Homo sapiens: one gene and its partner. The protein of the gene in region 1 purifies or fractionates together with the protein of each later gene. This does not show direct contact. Each region holds a gene or a part of one and is shown on either strand. Other genes may lie near its edges.

What was found.
Region 2: the proteins of SLC5A6 (region 1) and TMEM38B purify together in Homo sapiens (affinity purification with mass spectrometry; 2 studies listed by BioGRID and IntAct, with this or other methods). This does not show direct contact.

The regions. Positions count from the first base shown.
Region 1 is NC_000002.12:27,199,059-27,202,275, forward strand, and holds the end of SLC5A6 (sodium-dependent multivitamin transporter), read right to left. Parts: intron 3,017-3,217; coding exon 2,930-3,016; intron 2,790-2,929; coding exon 2,608-2,789; intron 2,396-2,607; coding exon 2,292-2,395; intron 2,056-2,291; coding exon 1,940-2,055; intron 1,522-1,939; coding exon 1,378-1,521; coding exon of another isoform or gene 1,332-1,377; 3' UTR 529-1,331; downstream 1-528. UniProt on the Homo sapiens protein: Sodium-dependent multivitamin transporter that mediates the electrogenic transport of pantothenate, biotin, lipoate and iodide.
Region 2 is NC_000009.12:105,690,516-105,697,545, reverse strand, and holds the start of TMEM38B (trimeric intracellular cation channel type B), read right to left. Parts: upstream 3,006-7,030; 5' UTR 2,886-3,005; coding exon 2,774-2,885; intron 1-2,773. UniProt on the Homo sapiens protein: Intracellular monovalent cation channel required for maintenance of rapid intracellular calcium release. Acts as a potassium counter-ion channel that functions in synchronization with calcium release from intracellular stores.

The sequences.
Region 1 (3,217 bases):
CTAGAAGCCCTGGGAGAAGGCCTCAGTTGAGGCTGAATTCAGATATGCCTGGGACCCGGTCTCTGTTAAGAGACCCCGGAGAGCTGGTGCAGAGCTGATGTGGGCAGCTGAACAGGGCCAGGCAGGGGCAGAGGCCAGGTGTGGGAGGGTGTGAGCACAGTGTTCTTCACAAGACCATAAAAGTCCAGCTAGAATGTTCCGTTTCTAAAATCAGATGGGAACATTCTTCCTCCAGTTCCAAAAGTAAAAATCTGAGAGCAAAAGGTTCTGGCAAAGGGAAAGTGGGGCCGGAGAAGGGACAGACTAAGTAAGCCCCAGGGGATGAGAAGCCCTAGGAGAGGGTGTGCATCTTCTACCATGGTGAGCACAACACTGTCCCCTGCAGACACAGGGACAGCAGGGACTTGAAGCCACAGCCCCCCTCCTCAGCACAGGAAGGTGACCTGTACATAGGATAGGACTCCTTATCCTCACCAGAGGATGCAGTAGGGTGGACAAGAGCAGGTGAAGACAGTACAGGAGCCCAAATTCTAGGTCCAATGGTAGTTTTTATTCCCCAGGAACAAAGATAATGTGGAGAAGAAACTCCAAAAGGAAACAGAGCACGGATGACAGAAATGACACCACGGCAGCCTGGCTCAGGAGTCAGGTAGATAGATGGCTGCTCCACAGTGGACCCGGTCATGGCCCTGGTTTCTTGGATCCACATTTGCCCCGTCTCTTAAGTGTCCATCTCAGAGGTGGAGGATGGAGACAGTGAGGTGGAAAACGTGCTTGCTCTACACAAAGACAAATGGATCTTCTATTCCCAGAGGACCAGGGACACCAAAACCTCCCTCTTCAGAATGGAGGTAGACAGATAAAAATGAGAGGGGCTTGAGTGTCACAGACAATCTGAAAGTAATAATAGGGGCTCACTGTGGCTGGCAGAACTGGTACTGAAATGGGGACTACAGGGGAAGCAGCTTCCAGTTTTATGGTGGAGAGTCAGTCCTGAATCAGGCCCTGGGGCAATTATAACCAGAGTGCTGTTTCTAGCCACTTACTTCAAAGGACTATGGCTATGTTGAATCAGAAGCCATTATCTTTTTCCCAGAGGATGCACTTCCATCCCTATTTCTGGCATGATCCTGCTCCCTACGAGCCTGATCCTTTAAAAAACAGATTGGCAAGCGACGAGAAAAACGGTGCCTCACATGCTTGAGATGTGACAGCTTCTCCTGCAGGCAAGAACCTCTCAGAACAAGGTCCTTTGGTATGAGCTAGATCATCCAGGCCTGTCCCTGCAGAACACACCAAGACTCATCCCTGTACTACAGGGTGGCCTCTGGCTATGGCCTGGCACAGTGAGGACAGAGGCGGGGTCCTGAGTCAACATCACAGGGAGGTCTCCTGGAGGATGCAGGTGGAGCTGCTCCCCTGATAGGCTGTGCCATCCAGGGCCATGGCCTCCTTGTCTCTGCTGTCCCCCAGCACACCATTCCTCGGCTTCTCAGGAAACAGGCCAGTGTCGAGGTGGTCCTGCAAACACAGAGCCAAAGGGGTGGAACTGGTGAAGACGGATGACGGGTGCTTGACAGGATTCACACAAAAAAGGTCCCCGCCAGAAGGGAGCCCAGCAAGGCTGGGTTCGGGAGGGAGAGCAGGGGGAAAAGAGGGAGGGCATAGCACAGCAGGGAGCACAGGGTGGGCTGGGGAGGGGAGCTGACTGGCCCAGGCTGGGGCTGAGCTCCTCTGAGCCCTGAGATCCTTCTGCCCACCAAGCCAGTGCAGTCCTGTGGGTAGAACCTGAGACAGCCGTGTGGGACAGCCTAGGCTTAGCTGATCCTGAGAGAGGCACCCGGGGCAGGGGGAGAGAAAAGGGGTAGAAGGGAACCTGAAGAGTCAGTGGCATCTGTGGAGAAGGGCAGGGAGGGGTCACTTGGACAGCAGGTACTACCTGGCCGTAGCTCCTGCAGTGGAGCCGCTTCTGACAGGACAACGGAAGGAGGGACAGGAGCTTTGGCAACACTGGGTAAATGGTTGCAGGGTTCAGGGACCGGCCTCGCATTCTCCCTGAATGGAAATGTGCTTCTGAGTCTCTGGGTGGAACCATCCACAGCAGCGGGCCCCATGTCCTCCCTTGGCCCCCAGAGACCCCAGCCCCCACCCACCTCCTACATCCCAGCAGAAAAGCCTGACAGCTACGGACACCCAAGAGCTCAGAGGGCAGGAGCCTTTCTCCCTAGAGTCCCTTAGGGCCCTCTGTTAACCCCTCGGTGCTCATCTGCACCGCAATCCCACACCCTTACCAGTGAGTAGACTGACAATCAGGCCCACCACAATCACTGTGGTGGAGTTGTGAGCACTGTACCATAAGTAAGACAAGGAATAGAACCGCTGCAGCCCTGTGGGCCTGGGAAGAGCAGAGGTGAGAACAATTAGCAATTCGTTGGCAGGGCATTCCTTGGGCACCAATCTCTACTTGCCCGCATGGTCCCAGGGTCTTGGGACCCAATACCCAACATTTCCCTGGGGCCTCTGGTGGCCCATCCCTTAGCAAGACCCCTGTGAAAGCCCTCAAAGGAGGGCTTTGAGAAAACAAGAAGATAGCAAGCCCTGCCTTACTTGGAGAAGGTAGTCAAGGGCATCAGTGTGGTCACAGTGGCAACGGTTAGATTGGTGGGCAGGGAGAAGCTGGACCCATTAGAGGGAGAGGGTGGCATGCTGGAGCCCATGCTGGTCACGATGCTCCCGATGCCAATCCAGAAGGCCATGACGAGCCCAGCCAACAGGCCCACAACAGCACCCTGCCGAGACACAGTGCAGGCCTGTCACAAGGCCAGTCCTGCCAGCCCTCACGGCAGTCCTCAGCTCTCCTGGTGACAGCCCTGCCAACCCCCAGGTCCATCCTGCTACACATGACTGTGGATCCAGATGCATCACTCACAGGAGGGTTAGCACATGGAAAGAACATTCCAAGGCAGAAGAGTCCCAGCAGCGGTCCCCCAACCATGCCAAAGATGCTGATTGCTGCCTAGGAGGACAGGGTGAGAAGAAAAGGAAAAAGAACACAGACTCAGAGATGCCCAGACTCACCATAAAGCATAGCCACCAGCCATGACCTTGGAGCCCCACTTGTCAGATCTGTCTCTTCTGTGGGAACAATCAGAACTCCAGAGGTGGCCGAGCGGTGGCTCATGCCTGTAATTCCAGCAGTTTGGGAGGCCGAGGCGGG
Region 2 (7,030 bases), on another chromosome or scaffold:
CAATAAGAGGCACAAACACATCAGTACCATGACAAACATAAATGAAAAATTGCTTTCTGATCATCAGAATGGCAAGATATTGAAGACCAATAATAGAACTGTCAAAGGAAATGGGCAGTCTAACACACTTCGGGTAAAAGGCTAAACAGGTACACTGTTCACTCTTGTGTCTGAATTCCATCATTTTTACCTCCTTACAAGTACTGGTACTGTATGATACTATATAAGTATTCAATAATCACGTGGTTCTCAAATTATGGAATCTCAGGAGCCCTCTACATCCCTAAAAATTAGTAAACAGATTAATGCTTGCCAAGGATAGGGGACAGCTTACACAAAAGTGCAGGAAGGAATTTAGGGTGGGTGAGGAAACCGTTCAGTATCTTGATTGTGATGGTAGTTGAATGACTGTATGTGTCTGTCCAAAAACACAGAACTTTTTATTAAAAATGGTGAACAGATTCTATGTGAATTACATCTTTTAAAAAATCGGACTTAAATTTCTTGACAACCCCAAAAGGTTTTGTTTATGTTGGCTACAAGTATCAATACTTAGCATCTTAGAAATTATAACTGAGAAAATTTTAAATAGTTGTGGCGGCTAAAGCAACTCCAACATCCGCCATGTTGACTTATGATTAACCCCAGTTCTGGGATTGCCTCTAAGATTTATATTTTATCTACTGTTCCTTGTGTAAAAGTATACACTTACCGATCTTGCCCTTAGGTCAAACAACCTTGACGCTATTTCACTTACCATAAATCCTGCTCTTAAGCAACTGTCCTACACATCTCTGGTTGGGGGTTGGGGGTCGGGTAATGGGGTGATCCACCATCTCCTTGGGGCCACCCAAGACATGGCTTCTGTTCTTAAGTCCCTTTTAAAGGTTTCTTTCTAAGAAACTGGATTCCTCAGCCTCTCAGCTTCCTCAGCCTTTGGGGATAGGACTGCATAGACCTGTCCACTATGCAACAATTGTTCTTCATGTTTTCATTTTTTAAAAAGTAAATGTATTAAATGTTAACATAAATAATGTATTCTTCAAGCCTGGCCAACATGGCGAAACCCCGTCTCCACTACTAAAAATACAAAAATTAGCCGAACTTGGTGGCAGGCGCCTCCCAGCTACTCCGGAGGCTGAGGCAGGAGAATCGCTTAAACCCAGGAGGCACAGGTTGCAGCACTGAGCCGAGATCGCGCCACTGCACTTCAGCCTGGGCGACAGAGAGACTCCGTCTCAAAAATAATAATAATAATAATGATAATGTATTCTTTATGAAAAATAACTTTTCCAAAACAAAAAACATTTAGTGAGAAGAATCACACTGTGTACATTCTAACAAATGTCTGGCTTCAAATAGAAAACTGTTAGATTCTCATATCTACTTCCTTCTGTTACAGTATCACAACTCAGGTAGCCTCTGGAAAACTCCACTGTACACTTCTGAAAAAATGAGAGTGAAAAAGATAACATCTGCATATTATTACGAAAGTAATTTTAAACTGGCAGTGTCAGAGAATCCCATGGGTCCCTGGACCACAATGTGAACATCTGATTCAGCCTATACAAAAAAAAATTTTTTTAATCAAATTCTGAACATGTAGTAGCAACAAAACTTACTTTTTTCAAATCAAAGAAATAATATCTTATGCAGATAATGTGTTCTACTTTAATGCAGTAATACCATCCTCATCCAGGTCAAAATTTGTACCAACGATTTAAACTGAGCTACAAACTTCAACATAAATGAAAAATATTTCTGAGGTCTAAGGATTTTTTAAAACCAGTAAGTAGTCCATAAGAAAGATACAGCATCATCCTCCAGACCTCACTCATCAACTATCCGTAGGGCAAGGCAGATGAAAGACAGCAAGAACACAAAGAAAGTAGGCAAAGAAATGTCTGACCTCAAAGAAAGAAGAGGTCCATACAACTAAAAGCACAGTAGAATAACTACAAAAGTAAAGCAGTATTAGAGCAAACGCACCCTGGTGTAAAATCCAATAAAATACAACTACTGTCCCTTGATCGCATTGCTAAAAGAACTCAAAATGCTGTTTCAAGACTATATCCCCATTCTGCAGATAGTGAAACTACGCCAGGTAACTCTTGCTTGTACAGTGTCCGTCGTGACTGTGAAAAGGGGAACGCACTCGCTTCTCACATGCTAGGCAGGGTGTTAGGACACTGCGTGAAGGGGAATCCTGGTCTGGCTACAGGAGGCTTTTTGTTTCAGTGCTTGTACAACTTTCATAACTGGAGAGTAGTCCGCAACCATCTATTACTCCAAGAGACTGAGTCAGAAACCTGCTGTCTCCTCACATGACTTTCAAACACTGCGAGCGAGTGGCGACACTGCGAGCGAGTGGCGACACTGCGAGCGAGTGGCGGTACCGCGAGGAGGCCGCCCAAGCCCTGGGCTGGCGCGGATATCTGTGGTTCCGAAACGCTGCGGCAGCTTCTGTCAGTCCTGGGACTTCTGCGGGCGGTTGGCAAGGTCGGCCCTGCTCGCCCAGGCTACGGCCTCGCGGACCCCAGGTCACGCCTCCTTTGAGGAGTACTAGAGCCTCCGTCCTCCCCCACGCTGTTTCCCCATCTGCACTCAGTAAGTCAGACCAACCGGCCCTTGGCGCCCCTCCAACTCTACCATCGAACTGTCTGGGCTAGCGGCCACTCAGCCGCCCACCCGACCCACCCGACCCACCCGACTTAGACGGTCCTCGCCGTCAGGAGCACTCTGAGGGGTCCGGCCCGCGGCGCCCCGCACTCACCCGGCTGACGTTTCACCGCCATCACTGACACTAGATAGTGCGCGATGTCAAAAAAGGGAAACATGGACGTGCGGGAGAAGGCCAGAGCCAACTCGTCCCATGGAGAATCCATAACGACCACCGACCGCGGCAACCGAAGCAGCCGCGGCTACTGGTTCCCCGCGCTCGCGCGGTGAGGAGTAGGAGAGGGCACAGCCGCGGCCGCCCGCTCCTCCGCGCCGGCTCCAGCTCCGCGCGTGCGCCCTGGCGCCGAGGGGGCGGGGCCGCGCTTCGCGGGAGCCGCAGGCTCACCGGCGCTAGGCGGGTGGGCGGGGCGAGCGGGTTCCCCGCGGCTCCAGCCGGCTCTTGCCTCGGTTCTCCTAGTAAGGGTCCAGCGTCTTCTTGGTCCTGGGCGCAGTGCAGGACCTGGAGAGCGTGCAGATGAACAAAACACGGTCCTCAAGGGGAGACGCTCAGAGTTGGATTTATTTCTGTAAATTGATGTCATTCACCTAACATTTATCGAGCAACCACAGTGCAAGTCACACTGTGACTTACTGGAGATATAAAAATAAAACAATAATATCCTGACCTCAAGAACTATGCGTTCCCTGAAAGAGATTTTTTATAAAAAGAGAAAAAACGCACATAATGGTACAAAAGCAGGTACTGAGAAGTATAGCTGCCGTGCGAGAGCAGTTCGAAACGAAGATTACAATTCTGGGAAGTGAGTAAAGTGACATGTGAGCTGGACTTTAAAAGTTAAGTGAGAAACACAAGCTAGGTGGGAGATGGAGGGAGGTGTTTTGGGTTGACTACAAAGTGAGAAATGAGGTTGGGAAAAGTCCTCGAATGGCAGACAAAGCCAGGCAGTTTGGCTCCAGAGGTTAAATTCTTGATCAATCACTATGTTAAGCTCAGAGCCAGAATCTCTTCTCCTAATCTCTACGCTAACTGGGTTGTTTGGTGGAAGGTGAGGGAGTAGAGGTGCAACGAAGCAACAAGATTAAGAATAGATTGATGAGAAGCGACTGACAACGGAAAATCAGAGGGTATTCACTGGTCCAAGCAAAAGGTAGTGGAGGCTGTGGCAGCAGAAATTGAGACCAATTGTGGGAAACATGGGTAGAAGCAGAATATCGTCAGTGAGTGTCAGTCTGTACAGGCGGGAAAGGAAGCATTTGTCAAATAAAATGAGGAACGGGTGAGTAGGAGGATTGTGGTTGCATTCTGATAAATAGGAAACAAGAAGGAATAGGTTTGGGTAAGAAAAAAAACTAGCTTGGCACACTTATTTGATGTGTGAACAGATTATGCTGGCACCAGGAAATTGGAGAAACGTGATTAGCTGCTAGGTAGGTGACAGCTTCACGGGTGTATGCACTGCAAAAGGAGAATTTTTTTTATCTGAATATGTATTCATTAATTTTAATTCATTTAACAAAATGTTTTTTGCGTGCCTACTATGTAACCAGCATTTTGCTGGATGTCAGAAATACTGCCCTAAACACTAAGTGTTTAAAACGTAGGAAAATTGTAGTAAATCTCTACACTTCATTACTTATCAAGAAAGAATAGACTTGTTCAAATACTTTTCACGTGTGGTTTTCTAAGCAAGCACTTCCCGTAGAGAAAAGTCTTTAGACCTGTAGCACACTTTCTAGCAAAACTAAGGGGAAAAAAACCACCTGTGAATATTTATACTTTCCTGTTTAAGTCTGTTCTTTCCATACTTTTTACACATTCGCTTATTTTTGGAATTTTAGTTTTGCGAATTTAGGCTCAGAGTTTGGATATTACTTCTTTTTTTTCTTTTCTTGTTTTTTTTTTTTTTTTTTTTTTTTTTTTTTGATATGTAATCTTGCTCTGTTGCCAGACGAGTGCAGTGGCGCGATCTCGGCTCACTGCAACCCCCAACTCGCTGATTCAAGCGATTCTCCTGCCTCAGCCTCCCGAGTAGCTGGGATTAAAGGCACGTGCCACCACGTTTTTTTTGTATTTTTAGTACAGACGGGGTTTCACCATGTTGGCCAGGATGGTTTGGAACTCCTGACCTCATGATCCGCCCGCCTTGGCCTCCCAAAGTGCTGGGATTACAGGCGTGAGCCACTCACACCCAGCCTGGATATTATTTCTTTAAATATTTTACATTTTAACAGTCTTAAATTTTGCAAAATATATGGTTAGTCTTTGGACTTAAAAAAATATATGATGTAATCTTTAAGACACTACTGAATTGTGTGTCTATACCAGTATTATTCTGGGGTACCATTAAATCCATTATTAACATCAATAAGGCAAAATGAATAACATCAGAGGTTTTTTTAAGGAAGTAAATCAAGCACTTTACTTGCTTAAACAGAATAATTCCAATAGAAAGGAATTAATTATCTCAGACTCTAAAGATAATTTGAAAATTGTTGCATTTCAAAACAGTAAGAATAAGCTTGGTCCTATCTGCCTAGAGCCTAAAGAAATTTCCTTATAAAGGTCTAGGGGAAATTAAATCCTAATCTCACAAAAAAGGCAAGTTCCATCTACATTTTAAATGCGCTCACCGTATTTGCTTCTGGTCAGTGGTTGAGTTATTTAGTCTATTAAAATGAGCATTGTAGGAGGAAATGGAGGATGGAAAGACCCCTTTCCTTCTTACCTTTAAATTACCATGCTATTGAACTTTTTAAAGTACCTTAGAGTCCACAATTAGGAAGTTTTACATTAAATGGACCAATTGCATTTTAATTACCAATTACCTTTAAATTGGTGAGAAGGAAAGGCAAGATTTGGGAGAATTACATGTGAAGATTCAAAGTTTTCCTGACTTTTGGAAGCAGTATACAAAATTACATAATTATTGGTGATAAAATGAATCCAATTTACAAAGTATAGCTTATTCATTAGGAAGCCAAACTGGTCTAATTGTATTAATATCCAAAAATGAGTTCTGTGGGGTGTTTTTTCGTTTTGTTTTGTTTGTTTGTTTGTTTGTTTACTTGAGACTGAGTTTCGCTCTTGTTGCCCAGGCTGGAGTGCAGTGGCACAATCATGGCTCACTGCAACCTCTACCTCCCAGGTTCAAGCAATTCTCCTGCCTCAGCCTCCCGAGTAGCTGGGATTACAGGTGCCTGCCACCACACCCAGCTAATTTTTTGTATTTTTAGTAGAGACGGGTTTTTACCATGTTGGCCAGGCTAGCCAGGCTGGTCGAACTCCTGAACTCAGGTGATCCACCTGCTCAGCCTCCCAAAGTGCTGGGATTACTGCGTAAGCCACCGCACCCGGCCTGAAGAAGAGTTTTGACTAAACCTGTTGGAGGCACTTTTTAGTTCAAAAATATGTGAATCTAATTTTTATAAACCAGGTTTTGCAGCACCAGCATGATTAACATTTGGGGCTAAACAATTCTTTGTCATGGTGGACTGTGCTTGCATTGTATGATGTTTAGCAGCATCACTGGTACTAGATGCCAGGACCATGCACACACGCACACACACACACACTCCACTTGCAACAACCAAAAATGTCTTGGCTTTGCCAAATGTCTTCTGGGGCAGGGGCAGGGGTTGGGGGACACAAGATCACCCCTGGTTCAGAACTACTGCTATAAATGAATAAATGCTTTCTTCAACAATATATGCCTCTATTAATACAAACAATATGGTCATGTCACTAATGTTCCTTATCTCTTTAATTCTAGAATAATTGTATAACCCTTCTTAGTTTCAGTTTACACATCCATCTTCCTGGGTCAAACTGACAATATCCTGAAACCCAGTATCATACACGCAATCCTAGCTGTTTCTTCCCTGCAATACTGCTTTCTACCCACTAAGTGGCATGCCTTTCACTTTGGGAAATCTATAATAATAACTTTTTATTTTATTTTTTTATTAATACATCATACTTGCACATATTTATGAGGTACATGTGATATTTTGATATGTGCACACAACGTGTTATAATCAAATCAAGGCATTTAGCCTATCCACCACCTCAAACATTTATCATTTCTTTGTGTTGGGAACATTTCAAATCATCTTTTTTGTTTTTCTCTCTTGAATCTTAAAGGTCTATCAATCAAATCATCTCATCTAGCCATTTTGAAATAAACAATATACTATCGTTAACTATAGTCACCCTACCACGCTATTGAACTTTTTAAGGTACCTTAGAGTCCCCGATTTGCAAGTTTCATATTAAAGGGACCAATTGCACTCCTAAACCTTAGTATCTTGGTCTGGCATTTTCATTCTAAAGTTGTTTTGATAAGCACTTGAT